Linked DNA regions of Homo sapiens: region 1 is linked to region 2. Evidence: fine-mapped expression QTL. A gene starts in region 2. The other region holds a variant in brackets. All regions are shown on one strand. Distances are between the middles of the regions.

Region 1 (11,806 bases), 23 kb before region 2:
AGACCTGGCCCTGCCCTCAAGCTCCCAAGCTAAAGAGAGCCTGGCCCTCCCTCCCACTAGGTTTCTCCAGAGCCTGCTGCCTCCTGGTTTGGGCTTCTACTCTATTCTTCCCCCACAGACTCCCTGCAATTTACTGCATCACCTCTAGACTAGCAATTACAGATGGAGCTCAGAACCTACTTCCTGAGCCTTCCTAATCTCAGCAGCCCTGACAGCCACTTCCCTCTTAACACTAATGCAGCTGCTTATTCTGCTGACATTAAGGTCAGGGCCTGGTCCAAGGAAGAGGACAGGTACAGCCCAAGCTTTGCACTTGAACATCCATGCTTCTGACCACCTGCCCTGTGACGCTGGCTCTGTGCCCCAGTCCAGAAAAGACTTCTGCCTACTCCTCCTCTGCCCTACCCAGTTAACTCCCTTTCCTTCCCTCCCTTCTGCTTCTCACTCCTCCCCTCCCTTCTCTTCTTCTTCTCCCCTTCCCCCATCACCTGGGGCCCGATTCAGCTGTGCCCAGCCCTTACTCTGAGTGCCCACAGATGGAGCCTCCAGTAGCTTCTGTGGGGCACCCTTCCACCAGGTCCCAGCTCCCTTGGCTCCAGCAGTGTCCATGCTAAAGCCTCCAAGTGTCATGTTGGAGAGAATGGTGGTCACAGTAGATAAGCCCAAAATGCCTTACAGTTTACAGGCTGGAGTCAGGCCCCGCCACGTGCTGGCTACATGACTTCCCTGAGATTCCATTTCCTCCTCAGTAAAATAAGTGGTAAGATTTTAGGATCCCCAGCACTAAAAAGAAACGAAATACTGATACAGGCTCCAACATGGATGAATTTTGAAAGCATTACTATACTAAGTGAAAGAAGCCAGTCACAAACAAGCACATATTGGATGATTCCATTTCTAGGAAGTGTTCAGAACAGGCAAATTTATAGAGACAGAAAGTAGATTGATTAGTGGTTGCCTGAGGCTGGGGAGCGGGGGAAGGGAGGTGACTACCAATGTGTATGGAGTTTTTCCAGGGTGAGAGGGTGATGAAAATGTTCTAAAATAGATTGTGTTGATGGTTGTGCCACTCAGAATATACTAAAAACCATTTGAATTGTGCACTTGAAACAGATGAATTGTACGGTATGTGAATTCTATATCAATAAATCTGTAATTTAAAAAAAAAAAATTAGGTCGGGTGCAGTGGCTCACACCTATAATCCCAGCACTTTGCCAGACTGAGGCAGGAGGATCACTTAAGCCCAGGAGTTCAAGACCAGCCTGGGGAACACAGCAAGACCTCGTCTCTACTAAAAAATTTTAAATTACAAAAAAAAAAAGTAAAAAAAATAGAATCCTAATAGTACCTATCTCATAGGATTGTGGAAAATAGTAGTAATGTATGTAAAATATTTAGCACATAGTAGGCACAAAGAAATGACATTATTATTAAGAGACCTGGGAGAGCTGTGCCCAGCCTATCGTGGGAGGCCTTGACCTTTGGACTCAAAAGTGGCAGCAGGTCCACCCCCCCATACACCCTTGTCACCAAGGAAGCGTCCACAGCTTAAAGGAGCTATATTAAAGCACCCCAAGTCAAGAGGACTGAACCAGATCTGGAACTCACTCACCTCCCCTCTCACCTCACTGCCCTCACCAGCCAGCCTCTTGTCAAGTGATCAGGCTGTCAACCAACTTCTCTAGGATAAGGTTTCAGGTCAGCCCGTGTGTATAAGACCAGTGCCAAGCCAGAAGCAGCAGAGACAACAGTGAATGACAAGGAGGGGCCATCCAATCCCTGCTGCCACCTCCTGGGATGGAGCCCTAGGGAGCCCCTGTGCTGCCCCTGCCGTGGCAGGACTCACAGGTAAGACCCCTTTCTCCTCCCTCATCCCTTCCCCTCTCCCTCTCCCTTCTCCTTGTTCTCCCTTTCATTGGAGGCTTTCAGAGAGCAGCCCCGAGCAGTCAGGGCTCACTAGCTGCAGCTTGTCAGACCTGATAGAGATTCAGTCCAGCCGCCACCTTATGAAAAGGGAGCTGTGGCCTTGATGAGGGTACTGTGGCAGGGCTGGGGCTTGAACCCAACACCCGTGTCACTCACTCAAGACTCACACCCCCTTTGCCTTGCTGGCTGCCTCTGGTGGGATTTTGCAAATCCCCATAGACAGGAAGTGGCTTTCTTCTTTGCCTGCCCCAGAATCTCTGCGATTCCTCCAGAGCATAAATCCCTCTCTTTCCATGAGGACCCTGGGGCCCTCTTCCTGAGTAGGGATGACAGGGGCACTTCTGACCTGAGGCGTGGTCCAGGTCATTTGCTGGGAGCTTTACAGAGCCCATGGTCTCTGCCCAGACGGCTTCTTCAGTGGGCTGCTGTGAAGGCTTTGCCGGGAGGGTGGGTTGGAGTTGGGGAGGCAACTGGTGTTGGGTAGGATGTCTCAAAATGGGGTCCTCTTCCCCTGCTTCAGAGCTACCACAGGGAGTTTTCCTAATGCAGATTCCTAGGCCCCACCCCAGACCTAAATCAGGATCTCTGGGGCTGAGAGCTGAGAATCTGCTCTGTAAACAAGCAGCTCAAGGGATCCTTGGCTCTCCCTGAAGTCTGAGACTCTCTGGGCAGTGAAACAGGCGCAGCTTCAGATGTCAGACAAACGTGGGCACCAATCTCAGCTCCAGCACTTCAGCTGTATGACTAGCAAAAGCCCTGGAAGCCTCAGGTCCCTGGTTTACGAAATGAGAATAATAATAGCAACTACTTGTAGCCTTATGAAGGGATCAAATCAGTCAGTGTCTGTAAAGCCCTCAGCACGGTATCTGGTGCAAGAAGCAACCAGCAAACATTAATGGACCATGCTGACTAGAACATCCCATCCCTCAGGAGCCCCAGCAGAGCTACAGTAATGAGGGTTCCACTTTTGACTTCTTCCTCCACTGGCCAGTGGCAAAAGGCTGCCGGCTGCTAGGGGTCTAGGAGAGTCTGGAGTGAATTGGGAAGAAGATTGGGGAGTGCTGGCCTCAAGGCACCTCCTACCTGTGCCCACCACTGTGGCTTTCCCTCCTCCCGCAGCTTGACTACTGAAAGTTCTAGAGCCCCAAGGTGGGCTTTTGACCTGAGTCTGTGTCCATCCATTCCATTTTCCATGAGTGGCTAAGAACTGCCCCTCTTGTCAAGTGATCACGCTGAGGCCAAGAGTTCAAGACCAGAATAGGCAACATAGAGAGACCCCCATCTCTACAAAAAATAAAAAATTAGCTGGGTATGGTGATGCACACCTGTAGTCCCAGCTACTCGGGAGGCTGAAGGTGGGAGGGTCACTTGAGTCCAAGAGGTCAAGGCTGCAGTGAGCCTGGATTGCACCACTGCACTCCAGCCCAGGTAACAGAGTGAGACCCTGTCTCAAAAAAAAAAAGGAGGCAGTTTGATATTGGGGAGAACAGATGCCTGAGCCTCGGTTTCCTCATGTATACAGTGCAGGTACCACTATCAGCTCTGCCTACCCCTGGTAAGGAGGGGAGGGAGAGGGTCAGGAGGAGGATTGCAAAATTCAAGGGATAGGAACGTGACCTGTTTTTATAGGCCAAATTCATGCAGCTTAAGTATGGCACCACCCAGGCTTCTCCCTTTCTAAAGCCCCTCCTGGGTAAGGAAGAGTTCCTGGGAGCCAGGCCAGACATCACTCCATCAGCCTTCTCTGGCCTGTCTCCTGCAGCCCCACCGCTGCACTGAAGCCCAGGGCTGTGGAGCAGCCTCTCTCCTTGGACCTCCTCTCGGCCCTAAAGGGACTGGGCAGAGCCTTCCAGGACTATGGTTGGACTGAAGCCTTCAGACGTGCCTCCCACCATGGCTGTGAAGTTCCTGGGGGCAGGCACAGCAGCCTGTTTTGCTGACCTCGTTACCTTTCCACTGGACACAGCCAAGGTCCGCCTGCAGGTAGGTGCCCTTTGGCCAAGGGTCATTGATCACATGGAAGGAGGGGCTAGTTCTCTCCCATATCCCCCATGACGTGTGCCCACATGCCCTTCCTCAGAACCCTGACAAAGACTCTCACTCCACTGCTTAGGACCCTTCCTTGCCTCCTCCCATCACCATCCACCAGGACAAAAAAATCTAAATTCTTTGCATGATGTGACAGGGCCCTTTATGGGCTAGGCCCTACTTTGTAAAGCATGCAGTGTGAGGTAAAAGTAAGGAATTAACTGTGTGACCTTGGGCAAGCCACGAAGCACTTATAAAATGGGAAAAACAATCTGTCCCTCTGATTTACTCTGAGGATCAAACACCAAGCCATGTGTATAATACTGCTTTGTGAATGGTAAAATGCTGCGCAGACACCAGTGATTTCTACTGTGACCAGCATGGTTGTTCTCAGGCCCAGCCCAGGCAGGCCCAGCCCCAGCAGGGTTCCTGTGCACGCAGCCCCTTCTTGCCTTCCCATCTGAGTCCTCACCCCCTGCTATTGTCCCTCAGATCCAGGGGGAGAACCAGGCGGTCCAGACGGCCCGGCTCGTGCAGTACCGTGGCGTGCTGGGCACCATCCTGACCATGGTGCGGACTGAGGGTCCCTGCAGCCCCTACAATGGGCTGGTGGCCGGCCTGCAGCGCCAGATGAGCTTCGCCTCCATCCGCATCGGCCTCTATGACTCCGTCAAGCAGGTGTACACCCCCAAAGGCGCGGACAGTGAGTGACCAGGTCCCTGAACACCAAAGGGGTGGCTGAAAGTGTGTGGGTCAAGAGACCAGGGAAGTCTAGACTCAGAGGCAGAGCCAGGGGCGGGGGGAAGCTGGTACCGGACGCTTATGAGGAGGCTCTGAGTGGACATCAAGGAAGCTGCAGGGGCAGCCCCGCAGAGAACAGCATGTCCCAGAATGCTGCTTAGTAGGGGACACTGGCCCACTCTCTCTGCCCCTCCCAGACTCCAGCCTCACTACCCGGATTTTGGCCGGCTGCACCACAGGAGCCATGGCGGTGACCTGTGCCCAGCCCACAGATGTGGTGAAGGTCCGATTTCAGGCCAGCATACACCTCGGGCCATCCAGGAGCGACAGAAAATACAGCGGGACTATGGACGCCTACAGAACCATCGCCAGGGAGGAAGGAGTCAGGGGCCTGTGGAAAGGTAGGTCTGGACTCTGGACGCAGGCGGTCTTAGGCAGAGCTTTCCCTCCCCTCAGGCTGGGGCAGGGACCCCAGTAAGGAGGGGACTCCCAGCATGGCGTGTTCCAGTGATTCTGAAAGAACATCACAACCAAAGATACTTCACTGACCTGCCACAGCCCCTCAAACTCAGTTCATTTTACCAGCCCTTTGCCATGTGCAGGTTGATGTGAGGGAGCCAGAAATGAACTTAAGACACCTTCACACGCCCAGGGCATGAGGACAGCAGAGGAGATAAGATGCAGCTACACCACAGGCAGGATGTGG[T/C]AGGGGTTGCCCCAGAGGTGGAGCTCCAGAGGCGGGCTCTGCAGAGAAGGTGACACCTAAGCTGGGCCTGGAAGACTGAACAGGCTCTAGGTGTGTGGAGACGGAAGGGGAGGGGCCCTCAAGCAGGGTCCGGAGGAAAAAGAGGAGCATCAGAAAAGCACAGCTGTGAGGAGTGGGCGCAGGGAGATGCAACGAGGAAGCGCTTCCTTGGGAGCAAAGCTGGAGGGCTCCCTATGTGTCCACATGGCAGCCACTGCGATGAATGCAGGACTCTCTCCGCATGTGAACCAGAGGTTGCAGGAACGTTTGCAGAAGAAACTGACCCAGTGAAGTTTAAGGGCAGGACACCTCTTAAGTTGGGGCTCTTCACTCACTTGTTGGGCACCCTTCAGAGCTTGTCCCCTTACCTGTGAAACCAGGGGTTTGATCCTGACAGTTTCCTAGGGCCCTGCTGGCACCACATTCTGTCACTGTTCCAAGAGCTCAGCCTCTCGCTGAATGACTTTCTTTTCTGGCTGCAGCTGGGTCTCCAGGAAGCATATTTTAATTTTGACAGCTATTGCAGATCACCCTCCAAATGTGGCCAAATGAACACAAGTGGGCCTCTCTGTTCTCTGTCTCTGAGGAAAACATGGATAATCTGAGAGTTGTTAACCCTAGAAAGGAAAATGTGGAATCTGCTCAGCTGGGGTGGGATCCTCTGGCTGAGACCATTGGAATGGGGCACTATGGCCCCAAAACTGGGGCCTGTGGCCTTGCAGCCAGGGCATCCATTTCTCCCATTTCCCATTCCTCCCTCCCCACCCATTTCACATCCCTCCCCACCGCCTTCCTAACAGGAACTTTGCCCAACATCATGAGGAATGCTATCGTCAACTGTGCTGAGGTGGTGACCTACGACATCCTCAAGGAGAAGCTGCTGGACTACCACCTGCTCACTGGTGAGGCCCTGGGCTCCAGGCAGGCAGCTCTCCCTCAGCAGGGAGGGAACCCAGAACTCCGTGGAGTGGGCACCACCCAGAGGCAACTGGGTTTTAGAAGGAGCAGAGAGAGAAGCAGTGCCTAGTAAAAAGTGCCAGGTACATTGTGGTGACAAGCAGGAAAGACCCCTGGGCTGGGAGGCTGGAGACTTGGGTTCCAGTCCCAGCACCACCTCTCACTATATAGCTTTAAGCAGGGGTCTCTCACCTTCTCCGACTTCAGTTTCCTCAAACAGCCTGCATGACCTCCCACCTCTGGGTCAGCCCAGGCCTAGTTTGCCAGTACTTACCAAGAGCTTAGCCCAGGGCACTGTGAGAGATATGGAAAATACTGTCCTATGCTCAGGGAGTTCACGGTTGAGTTGGGGACAAACAGTGCATACATATGGACAGAACACAAATGCACTCCTTGATATTTGCTTGTCCTTCCTCTGCAGACAACTTCCCCTGCCACTTTGTCTCTGCCTTTGGAGCCGGCTTCTGTGCCACAGTGGTGGCCTCCCCGGTGGACGTGGTGAAGACCCGGTATATGAACTCACCTCCAGGCCAGTACTTCAGCCCCCTCGACTGTATGATAAAGATGGTGGCCCAGGAGGGCCCCACAGCCTTCTACAAGGGGTGAGCCTCCTCCTGCCTCCAGCACTCCCTCCCAGAGAACAGGGGCTTCTTTCTTTTCGAATGTGGCTACCGTGGGTCAACCTGGGATGTAGCGGTGAAGAGTACAGATGTAAATGCCACAAAGAAGAAGTTTAAAAAACCATGCAAGTAAAAGAAAAAAAGTGAACCATACCTGATGGGGAGGGTTAGGGAAGCCTGACTGAGAACAAACACTCCAGGAATAGGTAAAAGTACTGCCTGTCTCCAGAGGAAGTTAGCAATCCTGAGACCTCCTGGACCTCCTGCCATGGCCATTGAGCACCACACTGACCATGGCCAGTGCCTTCCTCACTGTCTCCACACGCTCCACGTTTTCTTGCACTTACTGCTCCCTCTGCGTGGAATGCCTCATCATCTACAGGCTGTCAATTTTAGCCATCCTTCAAGACGAGTTCAAATGCCACCTCCTCCCTAACACTCTCAGGTGTAAATTTTTCCTCCTCCCTGGGAACTTCTGCAATGCCATTTGATACCATTTTTATGGTATTTATCACCTCCTGCCTTGTATTATAGTATTTGTAAGCTTAAATTATTCCTCATGCAAAGAGCAAGTTCCTGACAGCAAAAGTGGCTCAGACATCTTTTATCTCCCACAGTCCCTCACACAAAGTGAGCACTCGATAATGCAGGTTGTTTATGATTATCACAATAGCTAAGTCACTCTATATTAGGCCTCGTGCTGAGCACTTTACACACGTTATCCCAACAGCCCCTTGAACTGGGTAGTATTGTCCACATTAACTAAGGAAAAGACTGAGTGTCAGAAAAGTTAAGTAACTTATCCAAGATCACAGGTTAAAATGGTGGAGCCATGGCTCAAACCCTGACCGTCAGACACCACACCCAACAATGTTGTTTATCCTACTGGTAAGCTCTTAGCTTGGCCCTTTCACCTCCCACTGCTGATGTCTTCAACAGAGAGTTTTTTGGTGCCCAGTGTTAGAATGGACCCAACAAGTGAACAAGAGCTGCTATAGGTTCTCAAGCCTGGGAATGACGTAATAAAACTATACTGCAATTGACAGACTGTTCTTCCAAAAAGTGCCTCTATCATTACAGTCTTCAGCTGTAGCCACTTGTCTCAGTTACTGCTTTCACTTGTCCAACATTTCTGGAGCATCTTGTAGGTGCCAGGCCCTGGGTTATGCCTCCCTCAAAGAGCAGCAGATAAGTTGGTGGTATTTACTGAGCATGTATTGATGCTGGGCCCTGTGCTGAGTGCTGTCCAACATTAACTCACCTAATCTGCACGACTAACTCCACAAGGCAGATACTGTTATTTTCCTCATTTTACAGATAAGGAAACTGAGGCTTAGAAAGATTAAGTGATGTGTCCAGATTGTAAAGCTAGAAACTGGGAGAGCTTGGATTTGAACCCAGGTCTGACTCCAGAGTTTACATTTGTTGTCACAGTACTATCGTCCCCACAAGAGTCAAGAAAACCCATGGCATGAGGTCACAGTGCCCAAACTGAGTCCTCCAGAGCAAAGAGCAACCAGCCAGGGAAGGAGGAGAGGAGGGGACAGTCCAGGCAGAGGGAGCAAGAGGAGCAAAGGCATGGAGGGAAGAGGGCCTGGCATCGTCAGGGAATGTGACTAGCTGAGTCTGGTGGGAGCAAACGGGCCCAGGAGGTGGTTAGTGGAGGGACAGGCTGAGAGAGGGGCAGGGGCCAGCTCGTGGGCTTCTCCCTGAGTTGGTGAGCCACAGCTGAGGTGGGGACACTGTGCTATGCCATCACAGCACAGCCAGCCTCTCTGGAGAAGAGCTAAATCTGGTGCCACACTGTATTCACCCTGCAAAGCCCAAGCTTCTCCATGTCCTGGCAGGGGGCCATGTTAGGGCTGGCCACCCGGGGTGTAACTGAGCCCAGAAACACCCAGCAGCAGGGTGGAGTTAGAACCGCACCTCTGACACTTACTAGCCGCGGGTCTTTGGTTGAGCTCTTAACCTCCCTGGGCCTCAGTTTGTGAAAAAGAGCCTGGCAGCAACATGGCTGCCTTATAGAACTGTGAGAATTCGCTGCCTAACACAGTAACCCGTCTCAAAACGTGAGTTTTTTTTTCTTTTCCTTACTCCGACTTCTGCCTAAATCCCCTTAGCAGAAAAAAAAAAGAGAGAGAGAGACTGAAAGGATTCAGAAAATGCTTGTGATGAACAGAAGTCTGGATCCTCTGGCACTACCACTGTGTCCCGGGAGAGCACACGCATCTGTTGTGGTCCCCTAGCACTCCACCTGATGTGTTGGTTGTTTTTCTTATCAGATTTACACCCTCCTTTTTGCGTTTGGGATCCTGGAACGTGGTGATGTTCGTAACCTATGAGCAGCTGAAACGGGCCCTGATGAAAGTCCAGATGTTACGGGAATCACCGTTTTGAACAAGACAAGAAGGCCACTGGTAGCTAACGTGTCCGAAACCAGTTAAGAATGGAAGAAAACGGTGCATCCACGCACACATGGACACAGACCCACACATGTTTACAGAACTGTTGTTTACTTGTTGCTGATTCAAGAAACAGAAGTAGAAGAGGAGGAGGGATTCTGGTCTTCACTGCCATGCCTCAAGAACACCTTTGTTTTGCACTGACAAGATGGAAAATAAATTATATTAATTTTTGAAACCCATTAGGCATGCCTAATATTTAGGCAAGAGAAAATAAACCAAGATAGATCCATTTGGACAAAATGGAAGGTTGGAGACGTGTATCCCCGTGAAATCTGGTTAGATAATGAATGATAAGCAGGAAGGATGGCAAGCACGGGACAGGAGGGGCCCACAATGGAGTGGGAGATCAGCCACGGAGCCTGGAGGGATGCCACCCAGCAACACAGAGCTGGCGACTGCAGCTGCACCATCACACATGCATCATCAGCCTATTTGTAATATGTCTGCCACAGAGAGTCCTTTGGGATTCTAGGAAACCCAAGGAACAAGAGAAAAAACTAGAGCCTGTGCTAAAGAAGCCCTGCTGGGCCCATGTGAGGCTGGGGCTCGTAAATATTCCCTGACGACACTGAAGAATCAAGAGGGCAGCCCCCACTTTCCTACAAAATGGAGGGAGCCATCCCTTCCCTGTCCACCTCACCAGGGGTGCTATGACATGCAAGTGAGAAGCTGGGCATGAACGCACTTTATAAAAGCAAAAGCTCTGTGTAAATCTAACTACAAGGACAATGCCTTGGGAGAGATTTTGTCGGGACAGAGAGGAGTTGCCAGGGAAGAAGGTTTGAAAGATACGGTTGTCTAGAGGTGAGACCAAAGGATCCAGAGACTTGGGGACCAGAGGTGACAGTGGATGACGTGAAGCCACAGGAGCCCCACCCCCATGCAGCCTCTTCCCCACCCCCCCCACCACGTGCTCAATCATGAGTACCTCAAAGGATTGTTGGGCTTGGGGGAAAAGAGGTGGATTCCTGGGCAAGAACCTAAAGTAGCAGGACTCGGAATTCTCGGGAAATTATTATGACTCAATAAAAGAATTCACACCTTAGGTGTGGGAGTAAGAACAGCCACTTCTCTGCCTTTTCTTTCTTGGAATTTTCCTTTCTCACTTCTATTTCAGGCTTTCTATGTGTCAGGGCAGGGCCAGATCCAGCCCCACATGCCTACACTTCATCTGCCCCCTCTCACCCTGTTTAATTGCAGGCAAGTAGCTTTATTTTTTTAGGGTTCCAGCTCCTGCTTCTGCAAAAGGCAGGGTTGAACCAGACGACCGACTTCCAAGCTTAAGACTGTACATTTTTCGAATTGATAATGGGGACCCAAAATGCCACTATCTTTTTCTACTTCTTGGCAGCCTTGCGTAGCTCTGATGATTGTCAGGACTGGGTTCAAACCTCACCCCATTCTACCTTACTAACCACCTAGCCACAGGGAATCCTTGCACCTTGGTGTGCTACCAGAGAAGTGGGAATAACAATCGCTGCTTCACAGGCTTGTTGTGAGGGTTGACCTAAAACTCCTTGGAAAGCAGACATGTGGTGTGCACCTGCTACCTGGGAGGCTTAAGCGAGAGGACTGCTTGAGCCCAGGAGTTCAGGGCTGCAGTGAGCCATGACTGCACCTGTGAATAATGACTGCACTCCAGCCTTGGCAACAGAGCATAACTCCTTCTCTGAAACAAAACAAACAAAAAATCGTTGGCATACAGGAGGCACTCGGTAATGTCATTTCCCTGCTTCCCTGCTCCTACCCCTCCAGACCCTGGGAAAAAGCAAATATCTATTCATCCTCAGCACTTTCCTAAATTTAAATTATAACTTGAGATCATCTATGTATACAAACTGGAGAGTTCATACAAAAGCAAAAAAAAATTATTTTGATTTAATGTCTGGCTTGGTTTTCAAATAAAACCCATATTTTGAAAAGTTTCCGGTTGGTGCAGTGGCTCACGCCTTTGGGAGGCCGAGGCGGGCGGATCACTTGAGGTCAAGAGTTTGAGACCAGCCTGGCCAACATGGTGAAACTCTGTCTCTACTAAAAATACCAAAAAAAAAAAAAAAAATTACCCAGGCATGGTGGTGGGTGCCTGTAATCCTAGCTACTCGGGAGGCTGAGGCAAGAGAATCACTCGAACCCAGGAGACTGAGGTTGCAGTGAGCCAAAACCACACCACTGCACTCCAGCCTAGGCGAGACTCTGTCTCAAAAAAAAAAATTAAATTGAATTGAATTAAATTAAAAGTTTCCCTTTTTAGCCAGGCATGGTGACATGTGCCTGCGGTCCCAGCTACTCGGGGGGCTCAGGTGGGAGGATCACTTGAGCCCAG
Region 2 (11,806 bases):
TGGATCACCTGAGGTCAGGAGTTCAAGACCAGCCCAGCCAACATGGTGAAACTCTGTCTCTACTAAAAATACAAAAATTAGCTGGGCGTGGTGGCAGGTACCTGTAATCCCAGCTGCTCGGGAGGCTGAGGCAGAAGAATCGCTTGAACCCGGGAGGTGGAGGTTGCAATGAGCCCAGATCATGCCATTGCACTCCAGCCTGGGCAACAAGAGTGAAACTCGGTCTCAAAAAAAAAAAAAAGAGAAGAAGAAGAAAGAAAACTAGGTGGAGTGTGGTGGCTTGCACCTATAATCCCAGCACTTTGGGAGGCCGAGGTGGGTGGATCTATTGAGGCTAGGAGTTCAAGATCAACCTGCCAACATGACGAAACCCCACCTCTACTAAAAATACAAAAAATTAGCACGGCGTGGTGTGTGTGCCTGTAATCCTAGCTACTTGGAAGGCTGAGGCAGGAATCGCTTGAACCTGGGGGGCAGAGGTTGCAGTGAGCCAAGATCTTGCCACTGCACTCCAGGCTGGGCGACACAGCACAACTCTATCTCAAAAAAAAAAAGAAAAAACAAAAGAAAACTAATATATCAAAATAATTTCTAGTTAGTTGGATTCACTCACTTATTCATTCAATGACTTATTGAATTATCATATATTACTAGTGCTTTTTAATACATACCTTCTACAATTTTTCAACTGAAAATTACTTCATTGATCAGGGCTCTTTAAACTGATCTCCATTTGCATTGTTTTACTAACTATAGTTATTATTCATGTATTAGCACTCTGAGCCTACTGTAATGATGTGTACCTTAATAAAGAACTGAATATTTGTAATGGCTGGCAGTGAATTTAGTAGTTCTTGAATTTAGAGCTCAAAATATGGGAGTAATTTGCTGCTTTATTTCCTTTGAGAGGTAATAGAGGAAAAACAGAATCTAATAACAATCACAGATTTTCGGGAAAGCACTGTAAAACCATATGATCAATTCTAGCTTCTTATGTAAACATGGAAAGATTGCCAGCTGAACACCTGTCATGCTCTAAGAAGTTGGGGAGAATTTGCATTTTTAGAACTGTGAGCAAAATGAGAACGACTGCTATGTTCATGCTTTGTGAATTTAGCTTTATTTCATTCACACAATTCATGGGAAAAAATGCATCTTTTAACTCGGTGTTTTTCAATTCAACTTTTAAAATACAGGAGTGGGCCAGACCCGGTGGCTCACACCTGTAATCTCATCACTTTGGGAGGCCGAGGCAGGTGGACCACAAGGTCAAGAGATAGACACCATCCTGGCCAACATGGTGAAACCCCATCTCCACTAAAAATACAAAAATTAGCTGGGCATGTTGGCACGTACCTGTAATCCCAGCTACTCGGGAGACTGAGGCAGGAGAATCGCTTGAACCTGGGAGATGGAGGTTACAGTAAGCCGAGATCGCGCCACTGCACTCCAGCCTGGCGACAGAGCAAGACTCCATCTCAAAAAAAAAAAAAAAAAAAAAAAAAAAAAAAAAAAAAAACCAGGATGTGTTACCAAGGAAAATTCATTTACAATGGTTAATTATGTGACAAACATGTCAAGTAATTCCATCTGGCTTTGTGTCACCATTTCCCCACCCTTTTTTCAGAAACCAAAACCAAGAAGAAGAACAAACATCAAAATGGACATGGAAATTAACAAATATATGATTCAATTTAATCTCCTAAGAGGTTTTTTAAAATTATTTTATTTTGAGACGGAGTCTTGCTCTGTCGCCAGGCTGGAGTGCAGTGGCAGGATCTCAGCTCACTGCAACCTCCATCTCCCAGGTTCAAGCGATTCTCCTGCTTCAGCCTCCCAAGTAGCTGGAACTACAGGCAAGCACCACCACACCCAGCTAATGTTTGTATTTTTGGTAGAGATGGGGTTTCACCATGTTGGCCAGGATGGTCTCGATCTCTTGACCTCATGATCCACCCGCCTTGGCCTCCCAAAGTGCTGGGATTACAGGTATTTTTTATTTTTTTTGAGACAGGGTCACCCTGTCACCCAGGCTGGAGTGTAGTGGCACAATCATGGCTCACTGCAGCCTCAACCTCCCAGGCTCAGGTGATCCTCCATGTCAGCCTCCCAAGTAGCTGGAACTATAGGCGTGCAACACCATGCCCAGCTAATTTTTGTATTTTTTGTAGAGACAGGGATTTGCCATGTTGGCCAGGCTGGTCTTCAACTCCTGGCCTCAAGTGATCCACCCGTCTCAACCTCCCAAACTGCTAGGATTACAGGTGTGAGCCACCGTGCCCCATCTCATCTGCTAAGTGGGTTTAAAGAAATTCAGTTTCATGTCAATTTTTAAAATGTATGGTTATCAAATTCGACTTCTTTTTAAAAATGCAATCAGATAACTGTATGCTTGTTTGATGAGGGGAGGAAAGTTAATATAGCCAATCTACTCAATATTTTTAGCAGAAATTATCAGAGACTAAGGAAATGTTTAAGTTTTTCTCATGTTGGTTTTAATTACCTAATGTTTTCAGTTTTCTCTTTCATTCTTGTGTCTTTTTTTCATTTTCAGTGTTTCAAATACAGTTTGTATTTAAAGATTTAGAAGTTCCAAAACTGTAAGCACAGTGGATTGTTTCCTGGGATGATGTTAAAATTATACAACAAAATATATGAAACTTTGTCAATTTGGTTATTGGCACATACAAAATATTTACAAATAAACGTGTGTGTGTGTGCGTGTACACACAATTCAATGAAATAGATGTGAAACAAGTTTTCTTTTTTTTTTTTTTGAGACAGAGTCTTGCTCTGTCGCCCAGGCTGGAGTGCAATGTCGCAGTCTCAGCTCACTGCAACCTCTGCCTCCCGGGTTCAAGCGATTCTCCTGCCTCAGCCTCCCGAGTAGCTGGGACTACAGGCACCTACCACCACTCCCAGCTAATTTTTGTGTTTTTAGTAGAGACAGGGTTTCACCATGTTAGCCAGGCTAGTCTCCAACTCCTGACCTCAGGTGATCTGCCCGCCTCAGCCTCCCAAAGTGCTGGGATTGCAGGCGTGAGCCACCTCACCTGGCTACAAGTTTTCAAAATACATTTATCTGTACCCATACATTCTCCAGTTTGTCCACAGGACATCTTATGACTTGAGCAAGCTGCTAAAAATCCAAGGGTGCAGCGTTTGTATGTCTATAGGATTGCTCAGATCTGCCCCCACCCTGAAAGAATTTAAGAGAATTTCTTGAGGCCAGGCACAGTGGCTCACACCTGTAATTCCAGTACTGTGAGAGTCCGAGGTCAGAGGACTGCTTGAGGCCAGGAGTTCAAGAGCAGCCTGGACAACATAGGGAGACCTGTCACTACAAAGAATAAATAAATTAGCCAGGCTTAGTGGCTCATCCCTGTGGTCCCAGCTACTAGGGAGGCAGAAGTAGGACTGCTTGTCCCAGGAGGTCAAGACTGCAGTGAGCTGAGACCCAGCCACCTGCATTCCAGCCTGGGCAACAAAAAGAGACCCTGTCTCAAAAAATAAGTTAAATAAATAAATAATAAAAATAGTTTAAACCCTAAACACATCTTCTTTTTCAAAGAGGACTTCTTAAGGACTTCATGCTGCGTCCTGTTGATCTCCACTTCCCTTTTTCAGCGTCCACACTTTTAACAGTCTCTTTTGCCAAGGATAATAAGTATATAGTTTCTGGAATCCAGATTCTTCCCTGTTTGGACAGCCAGGGGGACAATTTTTGGTCTGCAGGCCTTTGCATCTGTTCTGCTGTTGCTCAGCAATCTCACAGCAAATTTGCCGAGCCTCTCCGGAATGCACAGCCAGACAGAGCTCAGCGCAAAAGCTAGAGAACCTGGCGGAGGGAGACTCACAGTGCCACAAAAAAACTTTATCTTTTCTTTTTTTTTTTCTTTTCTTTCTTTCTCTTTCTTTCTTGTCTTTCTGTCTTTCCTCTCTCTCTCTCTGTCTTTCTTTCCTCTCTTTCTTTCTTTTTTCCTACATGGCAAGATCTCCTCATGGCAGAAATAATCTGCCTTGACTTCTGTTTCCACGCTGCTTCTGCCAGGACCATGCGCTCGGCGTGTTTTTCTTTCCGCTATAATTATCCAGGCCCATCCCAGCTCTGGTCCCCTCAGCTGTTCCCTGGCAGTCCCTTCTGCTGGTGAAAACACATATGGCGCCGGCCTGACCAGGGTGTAAGTGTGTGAATATCAGGAAGATGACTGAACGTCTTTGGGACTCCGTTTCCTCATTGTAAAATGGAGGTTAATACCAGCCTTCTTCTACTCCCCAAACGCACGTGTTTGTCCCGGCCAGAGGGCCCAATTGTTGGCTGTTCACGCGTCAGTTACCCCCACAGGACGGGTCAGCCAATTAAAGGCGAACCAGGCCCGGTCCATCTCCTGACGCCTTTTCTCATCCCAGGGCTGGACAGGCAGCTGGCCTGGGCCCGGCTCTGCCTTGTCACGTGCGGGGGCCGGCCCGTTTGCTTGTCTGTGTGTAGGAGCGTGAGGTCACGCTGGGTGCTCCCGCCCCGCCGGGGCCTTTAGTGTCCTGGTCCCTAAACGCCAGGCCGCTCCACCGGGGGAGAAGGCGCGAACCCCAGCCGAGCCCAACGGCTGTTGTCGGTTGCCGGGCCACCTGTTGCTGCAGTTCTGATTGGTTCCTTCCCCCGACAACGCGGCGGCTGTAACCAATCGACAGCGAGGCCGGTCGCGAGGCCCCAGTCCCGCCCTGCAGGAGCCAGCCGCGCGCTCGCTCGCAGGAGGGTGGGTAGTTTGCCCAGCGTAGGGGGGCTGGGCCCATAAAAGAGGAAGTGCACTTAAGACACGGCCCCGCTGGACGCTGTTAGAAACCGTCCTGGCTGGGAAGGCAAGAGGTGTGTGACTGGACAAGACTTGTTTCTGGCGGTCAGTCTTGCCATCCTCACAGAGGTTGGCGGCCCGAGAGAGTGTGAGGCAGAGGCGGGGAGTGGCAAGGGAGTGACCATCTCGGGGAACGAAGGAGTAAACGCGGTGATGGGACGCACGGAAACGGGAGTGGAGAAAGTCATGGAGAGAACCCTAGGCGGGGCGGTCCCCGCGGAAAGGCGGCTGCTCCAGGGTCTCCGCACCCAAGTAGGAGCTGGCAGGCCCGGCCCCGCCCCGCAGGCCCCACCCCGGGCCCCGCCCCCGAGGCTTAAGCCGCGCCGCCGCCTGCGCGGAGCCCCACTGCGAAGCCCAGCTGCGCGCGCCTTGGGATTGACTGTCCACGCTCGCCCGGCTCGTCCGACGCGCCCTCCGCCAGCCGACAGACACAGCCGCACGCACTGCCGTGTTCTCCCTGCGGCTCGGTGAGCCTGGCCCCAGCCCTGCGCCCTTTGCGCCCCCCACGCTTGTTCTGCGTGCGCTGCCCGCTCTTCCATTTACCTTCTCTCCCACCCAAGTTTGTACTCTTTTCTTTCTCTCGGTTTTATTTTTTGTTTTTGTTTGTTTGTTTGAGACAGGCTTTCGCTCTGTCTCCCAGGCTGGAGTGCAGTGGCGCGATCTCGGCTCACTGCAGCCTCCACCTCCCAGGTTCAAGCGATCCGCCTGCCGAGTAGCTGGGATTACAGGCGCCCGCCACCACGCCTGGCTAATTTTTGTGTTTTGTAGAGATGGGGTTTCGCCATGTTGGCCAGGCTGGCCTCGAACTGCTGAGCTCAAGCAATCCGCCCGCCTCGGCCTCACAAAGTCCTAGAATTTTAGGCATGAGCCTCCGGGTCCGGCCTGTGCTAATCCTTTCTGTCCTTGGTTCTTTATTTCTCTTCTCTCTTTTTCTTAGTCCCTTTTGTTCTTTCCCTCTCCCGTTCAGTTGGCTGTCGTTTGAGCCTCCACCTTTTCACTCCCTCCTTTCCACCACGATGCCGAGCCCTGCCTTGGATGGGGACCATCAGCGATGACCACAATGACCTCTCCCTTACCAGGCAGCTCCAGGCAGTGTTCCTGCACCGCCTTTCCCAGGGCTTGGGGGCTTTTTCTAGTGGGCTTTGAGCTGCTCAATCTGGCCTCTGCAGGGCCGGCTCCCAGCCCTTCCAACCTCCTCACAGCCCGACCTGGGACCTAGCCAATTCCCGGAGAGTCTCTGTCCCATCGTGACCCCCTCACAACTCTCCCACTCACCAAAGTCTGATGACTGTGCTAGGGGGTGCTTATATAGAGTACTGAGTGTTACAAAAGCAGAAGTCTGGATGAGAACCAATTTGTGATATTAAGCAGGTGGGGTGGGGGTGGGGAGTGTACCTAGGTTCATTTTCCGCCCTGCTTTTCCCCTTTCCAGTGTGTGCACTTAACCAGTCCCTGGGCCCTGTTCCCCATCCCCCTCCAAGGCATGGATTGGGTGGGCTTGTGTGTCTTGGGGCAGGTGGCCCTTTCTAAACTCTCTGCCTTTGCTCACCCACAGGACACATAGTATGACCATTAGGTGTTTCGTCTCCCACCCATTTTCTATGGAAAACCAAGGGGATCGGGCCATGATAGCCACTGGCAGCTTTGAAGAACGGGACACCTTTAGAGAAGCTTGATCTTGGAGGCCTCACCGTGAGACCTTACAAAGCCGGGTAAGAGTCCAGTCCAAGGAAGAGGTCTCTTGCTGCCTCCTAACCCTGTGGTCTAGGGGCAGGAGTCAGCAGGGCATTAACAAAAATAATTACCATCCCCACCCCCGACAGTGAAGTGGCTCTTTCCAGTTCACAGAGCACTCTCACACCTCCCCGCTCTCATTCTGGCCCTTCAGCTGACTCGGACAAGCCAAGGATCTTGGTCCCCATTTTATAAAGGAGAAAACTGAGGCCCACGTGTAACAGTGATTGGCCCCAAGTCATCCCGGGAGCCAGCAGAAGAGCTAGGACAGGAACCTATTGTTCTAACTTCATATTGATGCTAGCTTTTGACTATCCCTGAAACCGAGATTGGTAATCAGCCCGGCTCTGAAACTGGTTATTTGCTGGGGACTGTAAAATAGGATTAACTATTTCTAGTCCTGCATTTTAATTGCTGTTAGTAGGGCCATCTTACCCACCCTCTGAAGGACCTGACTTGGCAAGCCCAAGGCAACATTCAGAATATGGCAGCTGAACCTCTGTGCACTTGTCTTTGGGCAGCAGCTGGGTCTTATTCTTCTCTGGCCTTCACAACATCCTGCAACCCAGCTCAAGGTCAGGAATGTGACAGACTCATGTCATCATATCTCTGATGCCCAGAGAAGGGATACCATTTGCCTGAGCCTTCTCAGTACTGTTTAATCAGCCTGTGAGAACTTTCCTTGTGAAAGGCCCTGTCTGTGCCTGGGGCTGATAAAACAGCAAGAACGAACTGAGGAGCTGGGCAGCAGTGCAAAGCAAATACTACCAGCTTTGGTGCCTGTAAGTGTGGCTCTTACTCATCTCACATGGAAATAAGGGCAGCCACCTTGCAGGGCTGCTCTGAGGATTGAGCTAATACAGTGCCCTGGGCGTTGGGGTGGGGAAAGTTGTGGAGCACCTCCTGGGGGAAGGGGGTGTCAGAGCAGGGAATCTGGGGAGTCCGAGGGCACCTTCATCAACCCAATCTGTCATTTGAGCACCAGTCTTCACTGAGCCTCGTGGGCAAGCTGGAGGGAAACAGGAATAAGGTCAGGCCCTGTTCTATAGGTCCCAGTGTAGTTGCTATGGTGAGTATCTTCATTTCCCTGCTTGCCCCAGCCACCTGGAGTGAGAAGCCCAAGAGGAAGCTGGGTGAGCTGTTTGTTTCCATGGGTCTCTGTGTTCACAGCTGACTCCCTTCACCAGCCAGCCCTTTCACCTGAGCCCCAGCAACAAAGGCAGTCAGGCGGGGCTCAAAGCAGCTGCTCCAATGAAGTCAAAGAAATAAGCTCAGGGGAAGAAGCAGGTCACCCTCCCCCACTAGGGTGCTGGGCTCACTTCCTCCTGGGGCAGTGGAGGAGGGTGTGGTTCCAACTCAGAACAAAATGGGGCTTTTGGTTTACTTTATCACTCTTCACAGCTCTGACCTGGACCCCTCATCCCTGCCTGTCTTGTGGTGTAAGTGCGGATCCCCCTAAGTTGGAGGAAAGGAAACTGGCCCAAACAAAAAGGAGAGCAGTTTTCTCTGCATCACATGGTAGGCCAGGAGGAGTCTAATGCCCCAGAGTTTACTCTCAGCCCCCAAAATCACCTAGCTAAATGTTACCTTATCTAAGAAGTCCTTAGGTTTTTTGGGGTTTGTTTTTTTTTTTTTTGAGACAAGGTCTCACTCTCTCACCCAGACTGGAGCACAGTGGCACAATCACAGCTCACTGCAGCCTCAACCTCCTGGGCTCAAGCAATCGTCCCAAGTAGCTGGGACTATAGGCCTGCACCACCATGTCCAGCTAATTTATTTTTATTTATATTTTTTAGACAGGGTCTCATTATGTTGCCCTGGCTGGTCTTGAACTCCTGGGTTCAAGCAGTCCTCCCACCTCTGCCTCCCAAAGTGCTAGGTTTTTTTTTGTTTGTTTGTCTGTTTTTTGAAACAGAGTCTTGCTCTGTCGCCTAGGCTGGAGTGCAGTGGCACGATCTCAGCTACTGCAACCTCCACCTCCTGGGTTCAAGTGATTCTCCTGCCTCAGCCTCCTAAGTAGTTGGGAATACAGGCGTGTGCCAACACACCCAGCTCATTTTTGTATTTTTAGCGGAGATGGGGTTTTGCCATGTTGGCCAAGCTGGTCTCAAACTCCTGACCTCAGGTGATTCGCCCGCCTCAGCCTCCCAAAGTGCTGGGTTTACAGGCGTGAGCCACCACACCCAGCCCAAGAAGTCTTTTCTGATCACCCACTCTTCCTTCTCTCCCAATGGCATTAGTTGTTCCCTCCTTTGCATTTTGAGAGTATGTCCTGTAAGCCCCAAATGCAGCTTGAATCATCTGCCCATCCACCCCCTGTGCCCAACAGTAAGCCTCCTCTAGAGTAGATACTATCTCCTGCATCTCAGTGAACCACTGCCCAGCAAAGCAGTCTTGCTAAAACAATGACTCTAGAGATCCTAAGCTGTGTGAGAGCTGGAGGAGAGAATTAGACTGATGGTCTGGGAAGGGATTGAATTAGTCATCTTGTACCTTTTCTTCTTGACTTAAGTTCCAGACCTGTAGCAACCATTCCTGCTTAGACATCCAGAACATAAGCCTATGGGTCTGTGCCTGTTGGGTCTTAGTCTGGGTGAAACTTTTCTCTACTTCTGTCAGCTCTCCAGATGAACCACAGAAGCAGGAATGTGGGCATCATCAGTGAAATCTCTGCATACAGCAGACAAAGGGCTGGTCCAGTGGCTGTTTATGAGGCAGCGCTAGGAGAGCTCTGATCCAGACTCTCCCTGCAGTGAAAGGGAGGGAGCCCTTCATGAAGTATTGACTGCTTGAGCAGGAATTGCTTCACCAGCACCTAACTGAGTGCCTCTCGAGCTCACATCGGTTTTCCCTCATGAGGCCACTTGGAGTCTTGCTGAGGGACTTGGTTCTATTAGGGAAGGTGAGTTTGGGGATGGTGAGCAGGGAGGGCCTGGGGACATTGTGGCTAATGGGGCTTTTCTCCTCTTGGCTTAGATTCCGGCAGAGTTCCTCTATCTCGTCTTGTTGCTGATTAAAGGTGCCCCTGTCTCCAGTTTTTCTCCATCTCCTGGGACGTAGCAGGAAATCAGCATCATGGTTGGGTTCAAGGCCACAGATGTGCCCCCTACTGCCACTGTGAAGTTTCTTGGGGCTGGCACAGCTGCCTGCATCGCAGATCTCATCACCTTTCCTCTGGATACTGCTAAAGTCCGGTTACAGGTGAGGGGATGAAGCCTGGGAGTCTTGATGGTGTCTACTCTGTTCCCTCCCCAAAGACACAGACCCCTCAAGGGCCAGTGTTTGGAGCATCGAGATGACTGGAGGTGGGAAGGGCAACATGCTTATCCCTGTAGCTACCCTGTCTTGGCCTTGCAGATCCAAGGAGAAAGTCAGGGGCCAGTGCGCGCTACAGCCAGCGCCCAGTACCGCGGTGTGATGGGCACCATTCTGACCATGGTGCGTACTGAGGGCCCCCGAAGCCTCTACAATGGGCTGGTTGCCGGCCTGCAGCGCCAAATGAGCTTTGCCTCTGTCCGCATCGGCCTGTATGATTCTGTCAAACAGTTCTACACCAAGGGCTCTGAGCGTGAGTATGGAGCAAGGGTGTAGGCCCCTTGGCCCTTTTTTCTCAGTGATGATTGATCTTAGTTCATTCAGCCATATAGTTTTTTAGGCCCCACGATCCCTAGGAAGATCAGGGGAACAGAGAACTGGAAGGGGCCCTGGTCCTCCACATAGTTCCTAAGCACCTGGGCTATACCAGGCTCTGAGCAGGGCGTCATCCCATCACAGTCTTCAACACCACCTTGGGAGTAGGTAGTATCATCCCAGTGTTATAGAAGAAGAGACTGAGGTGGGAAGGCAGTGGGTAGAGTGGGGACTTGGCCAGGGGCACACAGTAGAGAGCCAGAAAACACACAGTAGAGAGCCAGGACACTCGTCTCTAAGGCCAGCGTTCTTCCCTTTCACCTCCTTAGTATGCCATGCCAACCCTCCATTTTACACATGACGAAACAGAGCCCCAGACAAAAGGTTGTCTTTCCCAGATCACATGGCAGGAAGAAGTAAAGCTGACCTGAGATCCCAAGTCTTAGGAATCCCAGTCCTCAGAAAGCCACTTCTCTCTGAGCCTTGGTTTTCACATTTGTCAGATGGAAATGATTGTGATTTCTCAGGGCTGTTGAGCAGGTAAATGAAAATGTTTTATGAAAGAAAGCACCAAGTTTCATTTTGGTCTTAGCCCTTGCTATGTCCCTAGCAAGAAGTAGATATTCATAGGGATATTTTGTTTGATGTGAGGAGTTCTTACAGCAAGAGCTTGTAGAAGGCCAAAAGCTTCTGGATTCTATTCCCAAAAGCAGGAGATGACAGTGACAGGGTGGTTTTGGTGAGGAGAGATGAGGTAGAAAATGAGTGCAAGCCCGCTGGCCACTGACCCCATGGCTCGCCCACAGATGCCAGCATTGGGAGCCGCCTCCTAGCAGGCAGCACCACAGGTGCCCTGGCTGTGGCTGTGGCCCAGCCCACGGATGTGGTAAAGGTCCGATTCCAAGCTCAGGCCCGGGCTGGAGGTGGTCGGAGATACCAAAGCACCGTCAATGCCTACAAGACCATTGCCCGAGAGGAAGGGTTCCGGGGCCTCTGGAAAGGTGTGTACCAGTTGTTTTCCCTTCCCCTTTTCCTCCTCCCCGATACTCTGGTCTCACCCAGGATCTTCCTCCTCCTACAGGGACCTCTCCCAATGTTGCTCGTAATGCCATTGTCAACTGTGCTGAGCTGGTGACCTATGACCTCATCAAGGATGCCCTCCTGAAAGCCAACCTCATGACAGGTGAGTCATGAGGTAGACGGTGCTGGGTCTCACCCTTCCCCCATGCCAGGAGCAGGTGCGGGGGTCTAGCTGACACCAGAAGACCACATCTTTTCATCCTATTTGCCCTTTGCAGGGAGAGTAAGATATCTCTTACTTGCCATATTGAAGCCAATTGGGATGAAGCTCCCACTTTGCACATTGAGGAACTGAGGCTAGATTGGCAAAATGACTCTTTCAGGTCCTCAGAAGATGTCTCAGCTGGAGTCCCTGTCTGTTTTTGTTTTTTTGTTTGTTTGTTTTTTGTTTTTTTTGAGATAGAGTCTCACTCTGTTACCCGTGTAATCTCAGCTCACTGCAACCTTCTCCTCCTGGGTTCAAGCGATTCTTGTGCCTCAGCCTCCCGAGTAGCTGGGATGACAGGTGTGCA

Evidence for each region. PIP is the estimated chance that this variant, and not a neighbour inherited with it, causes the effect.
Region 1: its variant is fine-mapped to the expression of UCP2 in whole blood (TOPMed, PIP above 0.99).

Annotation. Positions count from the first base shown.
Region 1 is chr11:73,999,021-74,010,826 of GRCh38, reverse strand. It overlaps UCP3 (uncoupling protein 3), which reads left to right and starts at 1,742. Exons shown (of 7, transcript NM_003356.4): 1 at 1,742-1,849; 2 at 3,690-3,910; 3 at 4,448-4,658; 4 at 4,894-5,097; 5 at 6,242-6,343; 6 at 6,820-7,000; 7 at 9,301-10,550. The coding sequence starts at 3,785. The coding sequence ends at 9,415. RefSeq lists enhancers at 1,494-2,133, 5,613-6,812 and a silencer at 2,267-2,447. The variant T/C (reference allele first, on the strand shown) is at 5,403.
Region 2 is chr11:73,976,232-73,988,037 of GRCh38, reverse strand. It overlaps UCP2 (uncoupling protein 2), which reads left to right and starts at 5,195. Exons shown (of 8, transcript NM_003355.3): 1 at 5,195-5,317; 2 at 6,406-6,562; 3 at 9,561-9,785; 4 at 9,942-10,152; 5 at 11,021-11,215; 6 at 11,296-11,397. The coding sequence starts at 9,660. RefSeq lists enhancers at 3,858-4,358, 7,610-7,669 and silencers at 4,615-4,774, 5,075-5,284.